2 separate regions of the Homo sapiens genome follow, and region 2 is linked to region 1. The links come from fine-mapping of genetic effects on gene expression. Tissue or cell type: fibroblasts. Region 1 holds a variant in brackets; the other region holds the start of a gene. All regions are shown on one strand. Distances are between the middles of the regions.

Region 1 (8,106 bases):
CCTTTCATGTTCTGACTGCTTTAATAAAGCCGAAATTAAAATGTGCTAATCCGGGGGAAACTGGAAACTTGGAAATAATACACTAACGTAAACATACAACTCAATCCCATGGATTCTGAACACTTGATCACATTGTTTTAAATCTTAAGTGGCACAGCTGGTGGCTGAAGGCACGCTGAAGAGGATTTCCATACCACTTCACTAATACTTTCATTTGATGACAGATAAAGCGTGAAAGGGTTTTTTAAATTATTAAATTCTTTGATCTCCATATTTCCATTCAGATTTACTCTGAACACTGAGCAGTGTGGTGAGATAAACTTATAAATATTTGCTATAATAGCGCGGGGTCTTCTGTGAAGAATTGTTGAACCATTGTTGTGCTGTCGGAGGAAGGTGCTGAATTCCCGCGTGTGTTTAAAATACACGAGCGCAGACTCCAGTCTACACCCTGTAGTCCGCATTAAGCAGGCATAGGTAGCTGTAGGAGTGGAACAAAAGCAGCCTGTGTTTAATCTGTTCACAAATCTTTTGTTCCTAAATACTTGGAAAGGTGGTTAGACCAAGTAAGGGAGAGATTCAGGACTGGGTGGAAGCTTTGATTTAGACTGATGGCTGACAATGCAGATAGGAGGCTGGTCTCTCTAAACACATAAATTCGTTATCTAAACAGAGTGGGTAATGTCACAAATGCCTGGGAACCTAACTGAAACAGTTCATGATTTGACTGTAGTCAGTCCCTGTTTGGGCACTCCTTCCATGGACGTTTTTAAAGTTTCCTATAGCTTTCCTCATCCTTCATTCTCATTGGTGTGGTATAGGGGTCCAAACTTGGCCTTGGAATCCTGACTGCCTGGGTTAAAATCCTAGCTCAGCTGCGTGAACAAGCTGCATGAACTTGGACAAAAGGAAATGCTGGTTTCCCTATTTGTAAAATCGAGATTCAATAGTAGCTACTTCATGGAAAACTAAAATAAGGTGTCTTTATTGTAGCTGCCTACCCCTTAAAAATTGCTCAGGAAAATATTAGTTCTGATTTTTCATTCACTAGTCTTCATTCAGTAGCAGCCTATGGCTCCATGATAAACAAATTTCAAATCAGCTGACTAGTACATATTTATAGAGGACTTCAAAAAGGCTACAATCTCTTTGGAGAGATGAGAAACTCCAATGAAATACGTTAACATTATTCGATGGTATTTTATTATTTGGAAGTTTCCATAGAAGAGTGGAGATTTAGGGGGAAGGTGTCAAAATGAGTAGGGTGTGGGTTTTCTGGGTGCAGGAAAGCCATGAGGACATGGGCATCTCTACGCATTTGGTTTACTTAAGAGAACAGTGATGAGACCTAGCTGTTTGGAGCAAACCATCTCCATCTTGGCCTTTTTGTTTGCTTAGAAAATGATAATCTAAGGCAAATGAGAGGACATAATTAACAAGTAAAGAGTAATCATGGCTATCATTTATTGAGCACCTCCTATATGTCAAATATAAGCTACTTTTCCATTGATGCAAGAATTATGAAAGCAAATGTTAACATCCACATTTGACACAAAGATACAGAGGCTCAGAGGAGTTGACTTGCCCAAGGCCATGGAACTAGTAAGTAGCACAGCCAGAATTTGACCCCGTGTCTGTCCCAAAGCCAGGGGCTCTTTCTGTTACTCCAGGAGTCACCCTCACCATCATTCAATAGAGCTGTCAATAAAATGCCACCTTTGTTTTTGTTTTTGTTTTTTTTTTGAGACGGAGTCTTGCTCTGTCGCTAAGGCTGGAGTGCAGTGGCATGATCTCAGCTCACTGCAACCTCCACCTCCAGGGTTCAAGCGATTCTCCTGCCTCAGCCTCCTGAAAAGCTGGGACTACAGGTGCATGTCACCACACCTGGCTAATTTTTTGTATTTTTAGTAGAGACAGGATTTCACCATGTTGGCCAGGATGGTCTTGATCTCCTGACCTCGTGATCCACCCTCCTTGGCCTCCACAAGTGCTGGGATTACAGGCATGCGCCACCGCGCCCAGCCATAAAATGCCATTTTTTTATACATCAAAAATGAAGGTGCTTGAGGCTAACATTCAAAAATGTGTATTGAGGGTCCACACAGGAAGCCTGTGCTCTGGTTATATTTATAGAGGTGGTCTCAAGTCTCTAGAACACAAAGTCTCTGCTACCTCGTGAAGGAACACAACAGTTCTCCCTGTGACCAAAGGACCCTTGCCTTCTTTAGAGTCAACCTAGAGTCCAGGTGAATACAATGTCATGTCTTTCATACAGTGGGCTGCTTTGTAGCAAACTCCACCATCTGGACGTCACTGTAAATCAGTAAGAGAGAAGAGGTCCTCTGAGCAGGAAAAGAAACACTAGCACCAGGACCCACGTGCTACTCAACAGCAGAAGTGAACACCATGTGTGAATCTGTCGGCTAGGTACCACTTTGTGGTTCTATCAGTAAAATTCAGGTTAGGATTTCAACCTTAAGAAAATTCCATTCTTCCCAGCTTAGGAAATAAGGGAATAGGTGACCGCTAGAATTGCCCCAAAATTGCCAATCTGGAACTATTTAAAGCAGGAATAGCAATCCTAACATCTTATAGCCCTTCTTATAGCCAACTGTTACACCAAAGTTGCCAAGAAAAACTAAAATAAGATTCAAAAATCTTTTTACCAAGACTTTAAAATTTGTGCTAATTTTATTATAACAGTGATGCTATTGCTATGAATGATTATGCAATGATTTAGTTTGGAAATTTTTTCCATCAAAGTGGTATACTGATTTATAAGGGCCCATATAAACTGTGTAACATGGAAACCTGAATTTCCTGATAAGTGCTAGATAAATGAATGGAATCAAAATACAGGAAACTGATTTTTTAAATGGTTAGAAAACATATGAATGACTTTTATGTTCTAAACTCTAAGTACCCTATAGTTGTTCTTATTGTTGATTGGAGTATTTTTTTTTGCAAAGTATATACTTTAAAAAATCCTTACTTACAGAAACATATTTTAGACGCATACCATATCAGAATCCAGAAAAGGCCTACTGACAGCCTTCAGAAACCACTTCAGAGAACAGTCATGTAATTTCAACTTCAATAGTTAGTGACTGGCAATTTGGAGATATTTCACTTTCCAGGTGGTGAGCAACAGGTAAGTGAGAATACAGCAGAGGCTACCACGTAAAAGAAAGTCTCTGAAATGCCCTGGTCTGTCTGCTCACTAGAAGACATGCCACTTCTCCTCTTCAAAGCATCTTCAATGATTCTTCAAAGCATCTCCATTGTCATTTGGAACCAAGCCCCAGTTCTAAGCAGCAGTGCTTTCCACACTTGAGCATGCAGAAGAATCAACTGGACAGTTTTTATAGCATAATTCCTGGACTCCACACCCAAATATTCTGATTCTGCAGGTCTAAGTTGGGACCGGAAATCCTGCATTTCTAAGAGGCTCCCAGGTAATGCAATGCTGCTAGTCTAGGGATCACCCTTGGAGTCACAAGGACCACAGCTCCTGTCGTCTGGTGGTAATCTAAATTTCAATCTGGTATCTCACAAGTCCCTACTTGAGCTGATCTCTTTTAATATCACAACCACTTCTTGCTCTTGGTTACTTCTGAGGCATTTGGGCAACTGCTCCAAGTCTCTCCCGTCTACATGCCAGGCATTTCCTATCCTCCTGCTCATTGGTGATGCCTTTGCAAATGAAGACAGCCCTTGGAGAATTCTTCTGCTTCTGAATTCACGGCAATCCTTAAACTACACATCTGATGATTGATCTTATTCTGTATGTGACAACCTTCTACCATTGCCTTATATTGTTACATCAGAGAGAGTTTTTTAAAGTTGGTATTATTTTTCTACCCTTCTTCAACTGGTCTTTCTCAGTCCTCATGAGTAGGAATTATACCTTGCACCTAATGGTACACCAATAAATAATGACTGATTAATTAGATATATCAATTAATATATTTAATATCATTTTGGTTCTGCTCTGCTATGATTGTCTGAACTACCAAGGTGGGTGAGCACCATTACTCTAGAAAACCTAATTCAACACTGTTTTATTGTCTTGTTTCCCAGGGCAGCTCCTGAAGTCTCTTTCTGAATCCTTTACTGGACCTAACAGAGTAGGCATGCTCGTAAGTTAGATAGCCTATGACTCAAGTGGCTCACCAAAATAGATTATTTTTTTCATCCTGGATACAGACCAGCTAAGGTTTATACTAATTCATGACCCTCTGTTAAGAATCTCAAAGGGAGATTCTACCCACTGATAATGTAAAAGTGCAGACAAACCCCCAGTCTCTCTCTGAACAATGAAAACGAAAGATGTTTCCATTGCCTTCTGACTAATCCCTTCGCGAGTGATATAATCAGTAAGCCAGTAAGGAAACCCTGCCTTCAACGAGAGTATGATGTAAAAAATGTGCATTCTCTTGCAATACTGACCCATGAACAATCTAATGCCAGGAAACCCACAACAAATGCCTGGAATACCGGCATTCCAGATTCACATGACTTTTACTGTACCCCTACCTTGCGT[T/C]ATATTCTTGGTCTGTAGCGTTAGGAGAGTTAGCTAAGTAGTTATTACCAAGTTGTCTAGCTTGATAAGGATGGGCAAGCCCTCCACTGTAGACCCCCAGGCTCTGCTTTAAACTAACGGGAAGTTTTATGCGTTAATTTCATGAATGCCATTCAATGTTCAGCAGATACATTGTGAGCATCTACTAGATGCAAGCAGCGTTCCTGCAACACATAAAGTGCTCATTCTTCTTTTGCTCAGAACTCTAAGATGTGTCCACCCTTGAAATTACACATGGTGTTTCATTTTGCACCACGTAGGCTGGGCCCAAACCTGAATACGCACCAAACATGTGGAAGAGACGAGAAAGACTGCAGGGAGCAAAGGCCAGGCCACAGCATAAAACTCACTGCCTTCGGCTAACAGGTACTCCTGTCACCTCTGCCTTCCAGGTAGCGCCAAAACTGCCTCTCAGATGTCACCTCAGGCTGTTTATTGTGACTCTGAACCACTACTTTAAGTACCATTCTTTTCCTATTAATCCAAACTGTTTAAATAAAATTATTTTGATGGATGAAGACTCAGTATATATAATGCACGTCATTCATTTGGCACTTGTTCAAATAGGATATGGTGATATCTTGTATAGGACCAGGCTGAACATTTATCTGTAGAAAGGAATGCATTGCTTGGCCAATTAATAGCCAATGCAAAGGTAGATAATGTTTTAAATAATTTAAGAATAGAAAGAAATTTTTGGCACAGCAGTAACAACTACCTATTTAGCAAATGTGCTGGTTAAAATGATCCTTATCTTTTTATCATGTCAGGCTCTTCAGAACTTCTACCTGACAACAATTTTATTAGCCGTTCTAGTTCCTGTCCATGCACAGAAGTAATACAATGTCATCACTTTGAACATATTCCATATTACTCAGATTAACCACCAGTTCAAATGGTTCAAATGAGTTTCCTTTACCACGTATCTATGGAGAAGATAAAACTCTGCCAACTTAGTTAAAAAAGAAGCAATGATAAGAATCATTCTTTGGGGTTGACTTCCCACCACCCCAAAGACACAGCTCACCACAGAACTAACTCTTCTCCTCCTGTCTGTGAAGCCCAGGACATAGTTCCCACGTACTTATAACCAAGGGTCAGCCAGTGACAACAGTTGCCTGTAGCCTAAGAGCACAGCGAGAAACTTCTGTCCTGCTCTGATCATCTAAATGGAAAATTTACGAGATATACAGACAAATCAGTTCACAGACTATGCCCCAAGCACTAGAAATAACTTATTTCTACAATGTATTTGTACAAAATGTTCTGGATAATATAAAGTTGTTAAATGAATATAAGTCTAGGATTCCTAATTGGAGTGGATCGTTCCCTGCCCTCTTCCCCTGGAGATGGGAAAATCAAAAAGCAACAGACAGCCTTAGCCAATTCAACCTCTACCTATCTATTTTCATTCATAAATTCGGAGGGAAAGAAAGGAAGGAAAGAAAGTGAGGTCTCAAAAAAATGAAGTGAGGTAGGTGACTCATTACTTCAACATTTTCTTGGGGGTAACTTTAGCCAAGCCAGTGCTCAAGTAGGTGTATAGGCAGAAATAGGGGGAAAAACAGATACATCAAAACAAAGGAAGTTTATAAATGCTTCCCCTTCACCTGATATTGTACAGGGCCATCTCACCACGCTACAGCCCCTGCAACCCCTCACCACTTCTGTGTCTTTCCTCTAGGTCACAGCCTGCTGCTCCACACTCTGTCATGGGAGATGCCAAGGTTAAAATGACAGTTGGACTGTCAGCATCCAGCTTTTTGGAACGTCTGTTAAATAGTCTTGACGGATGCTGGATCTTTGCAAATGGGTGGTCGGGGACCAATACAGTCTCAGAAGAGGTATTTAAGACAAATTAAACAGCAGTGTTCCCCTGGCCCCATGGGCAAGAGGCAAGAGTGGGTTAGCTTCCCAAGAGACCGTGCCATCAGCTAAAGCATGAATCAACTGATCCATTCTATTTTTTAAACGTTTGCAAACACTTTCCTGGGATCAGTACCATGGCTCAAAGCACCTGTGATCATTTATGGCTTGGAAATATAATAAAGATATTTTAGGATAATTTTTTAATTGGAAAATATTTAAATTCCTTTTTGCCATATGTTTCTGACCTCCAGTGACCTCAGATCTTGATTAGGAAGATAAAGCAAAGACCAACCAGAAGTATGTAATTTTAGAACAGGAAAGTCGATCTGAAAAGTAATTTCTCTAAATTTAGTTACAGTAGCTCTTATCTGAACTGTGGTCCTTACACACCAATAACTTTTGGCTATTCAGATGAGAAGAACAACAAATTTTTTACCAAAATTGTTGTGTTCTTTTTCTGACTCAAGCTTAACCGGACAAATGAGAAGATGGAAGGGCTACTGGTGGAGTCAGAGAAATTCTTTACGTGAAATGACGTCTGCTTTTACTTGTTGGGAAACAGATTATTTTAAGAGAATATTAGAAACTATGACAAACCCCAAAACTGTTTCCCGTCAGAATTCTTGGAGGAATTGCTTAGTTTACCCACAGACACACTCCCTGGCCCCTGAATACTAGATAAACAGCATTCTTTCAAGATACAGGTCTTGAACAGTCATTTTCCCCTTTTCTCTTAATAGCAGGCTTTTAGGTTTAAACTATCCAGAAATTACATTACCACCCATGTCTCCTCCTCCTTTACCTGTTTGCAGAAAAGAAGCTTGGTAAATTATTATCGTATAATCTGTGATGCCAGCGCTGAAGTGTGGAATAATTTAAATATTTTGAAGGGTCGAGGATGTACAGGGTCAAATAACTTAAGAGCATGGCTTCTCAAGCTAGAACATGAAAAATTTCTCTTCTTCTAGTTGAAAATGGGGAGCCACATCTACAGAAAGCTTGGGCTTGGTGTTGGCAACAATGGGGCCTCCCCTTTCCCACTGCCCCAGTCCTTTTCTCCCCACACCCACATGAAAGGACGATACATTCCACAGGCCATGGATGAGCATCAAGTAGCAAAATTCTATAAGACTAAGAATCCCCCAGAAAGAGCCCAAGAGAATTACCAAAAAAACTTCTGTAATTTTGCCTCCAGTCCTAGTTTATTATATGTTACCAGTTTTAGGCCAATGAGGCATTTTCCAACTTCCCTAGTTCGTACTGTCACCAAAATCAGAGTCTAACTATGCTTAGAAAATGCTTCTTTGTATCTCCCTAATTCTTCTTCTATCTAATCTACAAAGGAGATAATATTCAGTCAGACTCTGCTTCTGGTGCAAGCTGCTGATGAAAATCTAAATCCCTCATGCTATGATTTAAGCAGTTATTGCCAAGACTGTCCTTTCTATTACCATCTAATATCATTTATTAAAGAAACCATTAGTGCAAGGAAATCTGATTAATTTGGGATTGCCAATTACTGAGAAGTGAATCATTAACAAATTCATATGAACTTCATTTGCAAATAGAGAACTTTTGAGTGTCGAAGGAGAACGACTATATTTTTAAGGGCAGTTAACAATTTTCTTTTTCTTTTTTTTTTTTTTTTTTTTTTG
Region 2 (8,106 bases), 230 kb before region 1:
AGGACTCAGGCATTCCTGATAGATGCGTGCACAAAAAGGTGAGTGAAAGTGCAGTACCCCCACCCACCAGGCTTCAGTTTCTGACATCTGTGATGTCACCGCAAATGCCCACTACCACCAAAACTGGTACTATCAAGGACACCCAGCCAACTAACATTTAGAAAGCAAACTCTTTATTATTAAACATTAACATATTTATCGACGTGTGAACATTCTGGGACAAAATCATCTGCCCACTTCTTGACGGGCCATTGTTAGAACGAATATTCCAAATGTTCTGCCCATATTGCATTTGGGGGAAGAAACTGCTCTGCTAAACCAAAGAAACACAAAATGTAAGAACTAGTGGGCAGAATCATCAGCAGAGAGCCCCCTCACTGTCACATCGCCCTTGTGAGGCACTCAGAAAAGCTACAGCAGTCACTTACATGACAACACCAACTTTCAATGTATTGGTTCACATATTTTAATTACATCTTGGTCCCTAAAGAAGCCTGCAGCCAGCAAACAGACCCAGGCACGAAAAGTAAATGAGTCTCAAACTGATTAGCCCAATAGGAATTGGACAACCCCTTAAGGGGCTCTAGATGGTGAAGGACACGCTGTTTGCCCTGCCATTCTGCAGCACAAAAATCCAGGCAGGTCGAAGAGGGCGGACACCCTCGCGTGGCCACCAGCCCGGAGCCGCAGCTCACACAGCGGCCTCCAAGGCGTTTCGCAGGCAGTCCCCACAGTGGTTCTTAAAGCGGCCGCTCTCGCCAATAATTGGGAGTCTAATTACGCAACGTTCTTCCCGCTCCCATTCCCGCTTCTTCTCTCTTTCCAACAGTCCGCTAACGAACCAGGTACTGTAGCTGGGTGTGTCGAAATCATTTTTCCCCTGCTCCCAAGTTTCTCGGTATATACGGTACAAAACTGCACAAAACCCGGCGCTAAGGAGCGCAGGAGGAGCTGACACTTCACACATTTGTCAAGATTACTGTCAGGCCCCACCTCGGCGATTGCCACATTCCCGATAGGCATCGCAGTTGTAAAATACACAAGTTCCCTCCCCGGCTCCGGACCCGAAAGCGTCTGCAGGCGCTGTCTATAACTTTGCTTTTCGATGGTTCAGTCATTATTAGCATTATGATTGGTTTTTACAAAACGCACTGGAATCTTAAGAGTCTTTTCCTTGCTCTGCTGCCTTCAAAAGACATGGAACCCCAGGACTGCTCCGAGGGCCCTGGGAATGTGCCGGCTGCAGTCTCAGGGCTCCCTCACTTGTCTTGGGTCTGAGGGCGCGACGGTGACGAGAAAGGGGGGACTACGGCCAGGAAAGGGGAGCAGGGCCCAATCCCCTCCCCTAGCGATCCCGCAGTGAAGGGCCCGGGCGCCGAGCCAGGACAGGCGCGATTCGCTCCCGTTTATCAAATCCTTATCGGTGCCCCGAGGTGGGAACCGCTGCTTTCGACCGGAGGATACACGGTTTCTGGCTCCAGTCCCGTAGTGGAAGTTGGAACAAGAGCAAATCAACCTCGGCAGTGAGCCCTCCCGGCCAGTCACCTCCCTCCCTTAGCGAGTCGGTCCTCCTCATCCTCGCACCTCTATACCGCCGCTCCGCCGCTGGTTTCCCGCGGCTCAGGCGGTTCAGCCGGCCGCGCGTTGGATTCCAGCTTCCCGCAGCATAGCCTCGCCAAGCCGCGGCCAAGCGCGGGGCTGGAAGCTCCAGGCCACTGGGGCCGCACGGGTGGAGACAGGAGGAGAAAGGGGACAGGCGGCGAGCCGCACACATTTGCAGAAGTTGAGGCCCTGCCTGCTTCTGCGCGGCCGCGCAGAGGGCTCGAACCCTCGCTCGGGTAGCGCCGGGCCCGGCTGGACTGGGAGCGGCCGGGAGAGGGCGAGAGGGCAGCAAGAAATGGCCAGAGTTGCCTCTCACCCAGTGCCGAGAGGCTCGCGAGGGCAGGCGGGCAGATCGTGGCTGCCCTTCTCTGTCCTCTTCGGAGACAGACACCCGGACCTGCCAGGGACATCCAGTGTTGCCGTCCGCTTCCTACACACCGAACCATCTGCCCCCGCAGGGCAATCCAGGTCACTCACTACCTACTCTCCCCAGAGTCAAGGTGCGGCACGAGGAAGTGGGTTCTCCAACCTTCGGTGGGGTCTGGAGCCCGGCAGCGGGGCGCTCTGAAGGGTCCTGGCTCCTCGGTAGGATCGTGTCCCTGAGCCGCTCTCCGCCTCCCGCCCCCCTTTGCCCACTTGGGCCGCGGCGCGGGCACAGGAGCGCATTTGGAAGGACTCCGCGAATCCAGAGAAAAATAGAGACGTGGATGCTGCCCCAAAATGAGAGACCAGAGAAAGTCGAGGACATGCACCCACAAACATTTCCAAGCGCCGGTGGCCACGGTAATCTGCTGCGGGGCGGCTGGGAGATTTTCAAAGGCACCGCGGAAGCACCTCCGACCTCCAGGCCATCTCCCTCGGCCTCCTGGCCTCGCCGTGCGCGCAAATCCCCGACTCCTCCGAGCCGCAGAAGTCTCCACTGCAAAGCTGCTGATCCGCGCCCCCAAACCGGGCACATGCTCTCCCCCTCACAGCCCTCCAAACCGAGCCTCGAGCTCCGAAGACCTCTCAGCACTCTTCTCCCAACCACTCTCGGTCGCGCCTGCCCCGCGCAGCCCGGCCCTGGCCTCGGACCGGCCCCCTGATCGGCCCGGACGCCCGCTTACCTTTTCTTCTCCTTGTCAGCTGTCATTGTCGCTGTGGCCCTTTGAGACGTTCAGACGCCGAGCACCTGGGCTCCCTGGCGGGTGGGGGGCTGTGGCCCTCGTCCGCTCCCCGCGGCCCGGGCGGGTGGTGAAGGTCCGAGGTGCGCGCAGGTCCCGAGCGCCCCGCGCAGTCAGGTGGAAGGTGGCGCGCGGCGGGCTAGGTGCGGGGGCGGGGGTGGAGAAAGGTGACTGGGAGGAACCTGCGCGCGGAGGCGGGGTCCGGGGAAGGAGTGGGTGGAGGCTGTCAGACCCGAAAAGAGGACGGAGAGAAGGGAACCCAAGTTCCTTTTTCCCTGGAAAAGGAGTCACTTTTCTGAGTTTTCAAAGAAAAAAAAAAGTGGCTCGAATGCTGGGAGTCGGAAGGAGTCGGAGGCCGGGCTGAGCTGACCATACAGTCTCAGGACACTGCCGAGGATTGTACGGCCGCCTCAGGAGCGCTGGGGCGGAAGCGCAGCGGGCACCGGACCCGTGTGGCGGTCCGCTCGCGAGTGTAAAGCTCCCGCGGCCGGCAGCCCACTTTAAAAACTCCGTCGGCCGGCTTGGGGCGGGCACGGGGCGGGCGCGGAGGGCGGGGGGCGGGCACCGGCGCGGGTGTGTGGGCGGGCACGCGCCGGCAGGCCCCGCCCGCGCCGAGCTCCGGGCGGCTCACTGCGTCCCGGCCAATGGGGACGCGCGGCCGCAGCCTCTGCCCTGACCCTGGCCCGCCTCCTGCCCCCGCGCTGCGCCCCGCCTCCTGCCTCCGCACTTCGAGGACTTGTTTATGAGGTCGTCTGGGCGGCGGGTAGCGGGGTGGGACTCCGCGTCGGGGAGAGGCAGCCTGCGCAGGGCCGAGGGGCGGCCGGGAGCCGGGCTCCGGGATTGCTGCGGGGGACGGCAGTTGCGCCACAGCGTCGGTGTCCTCGTACCGGCGCCGTGCCCTTGGAACGAGGGCAGGACCGCGGGCAGCGCCGGGCCAGCGCGGAGCCCCTCCACGCTGCTGCGCTCCTGCGTCCCTGGCCCTCGGGCCAGGTGGGGATAATTTCTCGGCCCCCAGCGGCTGCGTTTCGGGCGTGGGCGATGCGCCCTTTTCGGTGGGACGCAGCTGACTTGACCGTCTGGGAGAAGCAGTGCAAGGAAATTGATCTAGGGCTGCGCCTACTCTTCCTTCCCTCTCCCAGCAGGGTGGTTGCTTACCGGCTTGTGCCAGGCGGTTTGGTTTTGGCGGGGATGCGGCAGAGGAGGCCCTTTGAGCCGCCCGAGGCCGGGGCGAGTTCAGAATTGGAGAAGTCAGTCTGGTTCCCCAGTGTGATCTTGGAGTGACAAGAGTTGGCCATGTGCCCTCAAGTCACTGCATCTCAGGCCTGCCCTCTCTGCCGCCAGGGTCGATGGAAGTCCTGGGAAACCCAAAGGCTACAGGTGTTGGAAATTTGTAGATTTAAGGGCTCACACAGGCAACGGTTAGCGCTCAGGGATTTTCCAGCGGCGCTTTTGACGCTGCCTTCCATCTCCGGGCCCAGTGCTCCCCTGCCCCGCGCTGAGCTGTCTCCCACTCGCTACCGGCGATGGGGAAGGGACATCTGGGGAGAGGACAGGGGACGCCCTTAGTTTTTGAAGGCTGTGGAAGGACCCATGAGTTTCACAGGTGTAACTTGAAGTTGGAAAGCGAGGGCCAAAGAACTGGTCTATATCTCTCCCTTTAGCCTCTTGCCACATTTTATACTAGAACGATCTACAGAAGCGATTTGAAGAGAAGGGTAGGTTTCAGCGCCATAATAAAAATGAACACGTGTTTTCCCCGTGTACACAGAAAGGGTTGGGGGAGATACTTTTCAGGAGCCTGGAGAAGGCGAAGTGGGGAGAGGGCAAAAACTGACGAAGAATTGGGAAATACTTTTTTTTTTTTTTTGAGACTGAGTCCCACTCTGTCGCCCAGGCTGGAGTGCTGTGGCCCCATCTCGACTCACTGCAACCTCCGCTTCCCGCGATTCTTGTGGCTCAGCCTCCGGAGTAACTGGAATTAAAGGCGCCCACCACCACCCTCAGCTAATTTTTGTATTTTTAGTAGAGACGGGAGTTTTACCATGTTGGCCAGGCTGGTCTCAAACTCCTGACCTCAAGTGATCTGCCCAACTTGGCCTCTCAAAGTATTGGGATTACAGGCGTGAGTCACTGTGCCCGGCCGGGAAGTAGACGTATTTTGTCATTTTCTCAGATCTCGGGGCACGGAGCACCTATACAGGTTGATAGTCAACGAATTCAAAGATTGCAAATCTCTCTCTAGCGAACTATTTCATGGGGCTGGTGGGTTTCAGGAACGGGGTGATTTGGTACTGGGCTTCTCCAGCCAGCCATTTCTAGTGGACACATTTATGTATTTTAATGAGTTCAAATTGGTAGATAGTTCTCCCTTAACCATAGGCTTATTTCCCTCACTTGGGACTAGAGTGCGGGAAAAGGGCACCTTGGTGGCTTCCAGGTGCCTACAGTAGTTCACCACAACAGCCTCTGAGTCCTGGACTGTGCTTGACAGATCGAGGCAACACCTCCAACCCATAGAGAACATAGCCTTTTAGATCTTGTTTTTAAAGAGGAAAGGCAAGGAGGGGTCACTCAAGACCACATCAACCTAAGAAGACATGGACACATGGGAGGAACAGCACAGACTGGGGCGTGTCAGAGGGTGAGGGGTGGGAGGAGGGAGAGCATCAGGAACAATAGCTAACGGATGCTGGGCTTAATACCTAGGTGATGGGATGATCTGTGCAGTGGACCACCATGGTACACATTTACCTATGTAACAAACCTGCACATCCTGCACATGTACCCCTGAGCTTAAATGTTAGAAATTCCATCAACCATGTTATATAGCTCCTTCCTCTTGGCCAGACTGCACCCTATAAGTGAAGGATCCCCAGGCTAACACAAACAGCTGGCATTGAGTCTGGGATTTTTTTTTTTTCTTTAGACAATCTCACTCTGTTGCGCAGGTTGGAGCGGAGTGGCACGATCTTGGCGCACTGCAACCTCCACGTCCCGGGTTCAAGCTATTCCCCTGCCTCAGCCTCCCAAGTAGCTAGGACTACAGATGTGCACCACCATGCCCGGCTAATTTTTGTATTTTTAGTAGAGATGGAGTTTTGCCATGTTGGCCAGGCTGGTCTGGAACTCCTGGCCTCATGTGATCCACCCACCTGGGCTTCCCAGAGTGCTGGGATTATACGCATAAGCCACCGCACCTTGCCAAGTCCGGGATTTTGGCAGTGTCTGAGATACACCAAAAACTCATTATAATAACTCTCAAAAGGGTTGCACCCAGCCTTGCTTAGAGCAGAGCCGGGTGGCCTGAGATTTCTTCCAGGACTCAGCTCAATAACCTTTGCAGGAAGGAGCTGAGAGTGTAAACCAGATGCAGGCTGTGGCTAGGGTGCATCCAATTTTACTTTTTAGAGCCTGTGGAGAACTAGAGGAGAAAAACTTTGAAAGGTGATGCTGGGGCAGTGAGTGGGGGATGGGGAGCTGGGTCCCCGGATTCAGAGGGGTGTCTTTAGAGACACTGATGTTGTGGCCACAGAGGGCAGCAGAGGACACCGGTAGGCAAAGCTCCCAAGCTGCTTAAAATAGGAGCAAACTGCCCACCTCCCAGCAAATCTCCCTACCTGCCCCCCAACCCTGTATTGGATGGTTTGGGAACAAAAGCTGTGGCACCAGTGAAACACCTATTTGTTTTGACAAGGGACAAATCTGATTCTCTTGCTTCCTCTTTTCTTTGTAGGGTGTGCCCTCAGGAGGATGGGATAGAGATAAAGTGTGAACTTACAAACCTGGCAGAGAGCAGGCACCTGGGATGCAGTGGGCTGGTGGAAGAAAGATGGCCTCAGTACTCCCATCGAAGTAACAGTATGTTCCAGGATGCAGTTGGAAATTAGGTTGGAATGGATGGGATCTAACAGGAACAGCTCTTGGAAGGATGGGCTATCTCATTAGTACCTTACAACTTCCAATGCATTGTCACATATTGGAGTTGGGACCAGGGTGAGGCAAAAGAGGCCTTTAAGAGTCATGCAAGTACACTGGCCTCTGTCCTGCCACATGCCTTATCTCACGTAATACCCATCTGACCCTTGTCTGGCTATTTAGTTGGTTTCGGGGTGGAGAGAGCAGGGGAGGTAAGGAGCAGAGATGGGAGAGAGGACAAGCTGGCAGAGACTCTTTCTCTATGAAAAGCCTTGCCTGAGTCACTCCTTCCCTCACACTTGCATGTTACTCCATCCAAACGAAACCAGCCCCTTTTGTGACTTCACAAAATCTATACTCACACTCCCTGTCACTGAACTCCAGGTCCAGAAAACTATGCCCCCTGTGTTTGGCTTTAGGCCAATGTCGTGAGATATTCCACACAGACATGTGCTGTATCTTCTTTTAAATGTTGTGACTTTTGACCCCACAAATCTAGAATTTGTCATCTTTCAAAAAGAGTTCTGTGATTTCTTTTTTTTTTTTTTTTTTTTTTTGAGGCAAGAGTCAAACTTTTTTTCCTCCTTGAATTCCTAAGTGCTTGCTGGTAAGAAGGATGCAGTTTTAAAGAACCCCAGCTTCTCCATTCCTCACACCTGTATACTGATGACTTGGAGACTAACATCTTCCATTGCTAGGCTTAGGAATGAAGTTTTGCCTCTGAAGGGAGTTGTGCATTTGTAACTGTCATTCAACCAATGGTGAAAGAGTCACTGGTCCAGGGCCAATGTGCTCTGCTGCCTCCGGGAAAGCATAAGACATCAGTCTGTGGAAGAGGGCACTGGTGGTTTCCTTCCCTCCAAGAGGACATAGTTCAGTTGGGTACATACTGCATTTCCCAGATTTTGAATACACACGTTTTAAGGCTTCCAAAATCAGGTATCTTTTGACATGGTAATTCCTTTTCCTCCCCCAATTTTTAATTTGGTAAATATGTACAATTTATATGCTCTTAACATTTTTAAATTTGAAAATCGAGAGCAAAATCTTATAGCCTAAACAACAGGAGTGGTAAGAATTTGGTGGTGGTGAACAACCAGAAAATCTGGAGTCCCAGCCATGTCCACTGCTAGGACCCAGAGAAGCCTAGCCTGGACTGGCCCAGCTGCCGGGCTGATGAGTGTGACCTCTGAGGTGATAAAATAACACCCATGTGGGAGGAATGGCCAATAAGAAGGACATGCCAGCCCCACCTTAGAAAAAGGCATGAGTAGAAATGAAGGTGCTATATCACTAAAAATGATGACATTGGGCCCCAAGCATCCGATTTTCTCTGGCACCTGGCTAAGACAGGCATAGAGGACAGGGCCGGTTGGGGTGTAGTCAGAGACACCCTCCCTATTCTGTGGCATTGCTTTGGCCTGTA

Direction of the effects. Positions count from the first base shown, and alleles are read on the strand shown. Sizes are in standard deviations (SD) of each study's normalised expression.
With allele T in place of C in region 1, the expression in fibroblasts of the gene that starts at base 3,239 in region 2 is lower (small effect, 0.19 SD a copy in GTEx).

What was found. PIP is the estimated chance that this variant, and not a neighbour inherited with it, causes the effect.
Region 2: it holds the start of EPAS1, and the variant in region 1 is fine-mapped to the expression of EPAS1 in fibroblasts (GTEx, PIP above 0.99).

The regions. Positions count from the first base shown.
Region 1 is chr2:46,064,280-46,072,385 of GRCh38, reverse strand. All of the region lies in intron 10 of PRKCE (protein kinase C epsilon), which reads right to left. Among named protein-coding and RNA genes, the nearest start is that of EPAS1, 230 kb to the left of the region's middle. RefSeq lists an enhancer at 3,873-5,072. The variant T/C (reference allele first, on the strand shown) is at 4,544.
Region 2 is chr2:46,292,540-46,300,645 of GRCh38, reverse strand. EPAS1 (endothelial PAS domain protein 1) reads right to left here and starts at 3,239. Exons shown (of 16, transcript NM_001430.5): 1 at 2,709-3,239. The coding sequence starts at 2,734. RefSeq lists silencers at 2,646-2,975, 3,206-3,785.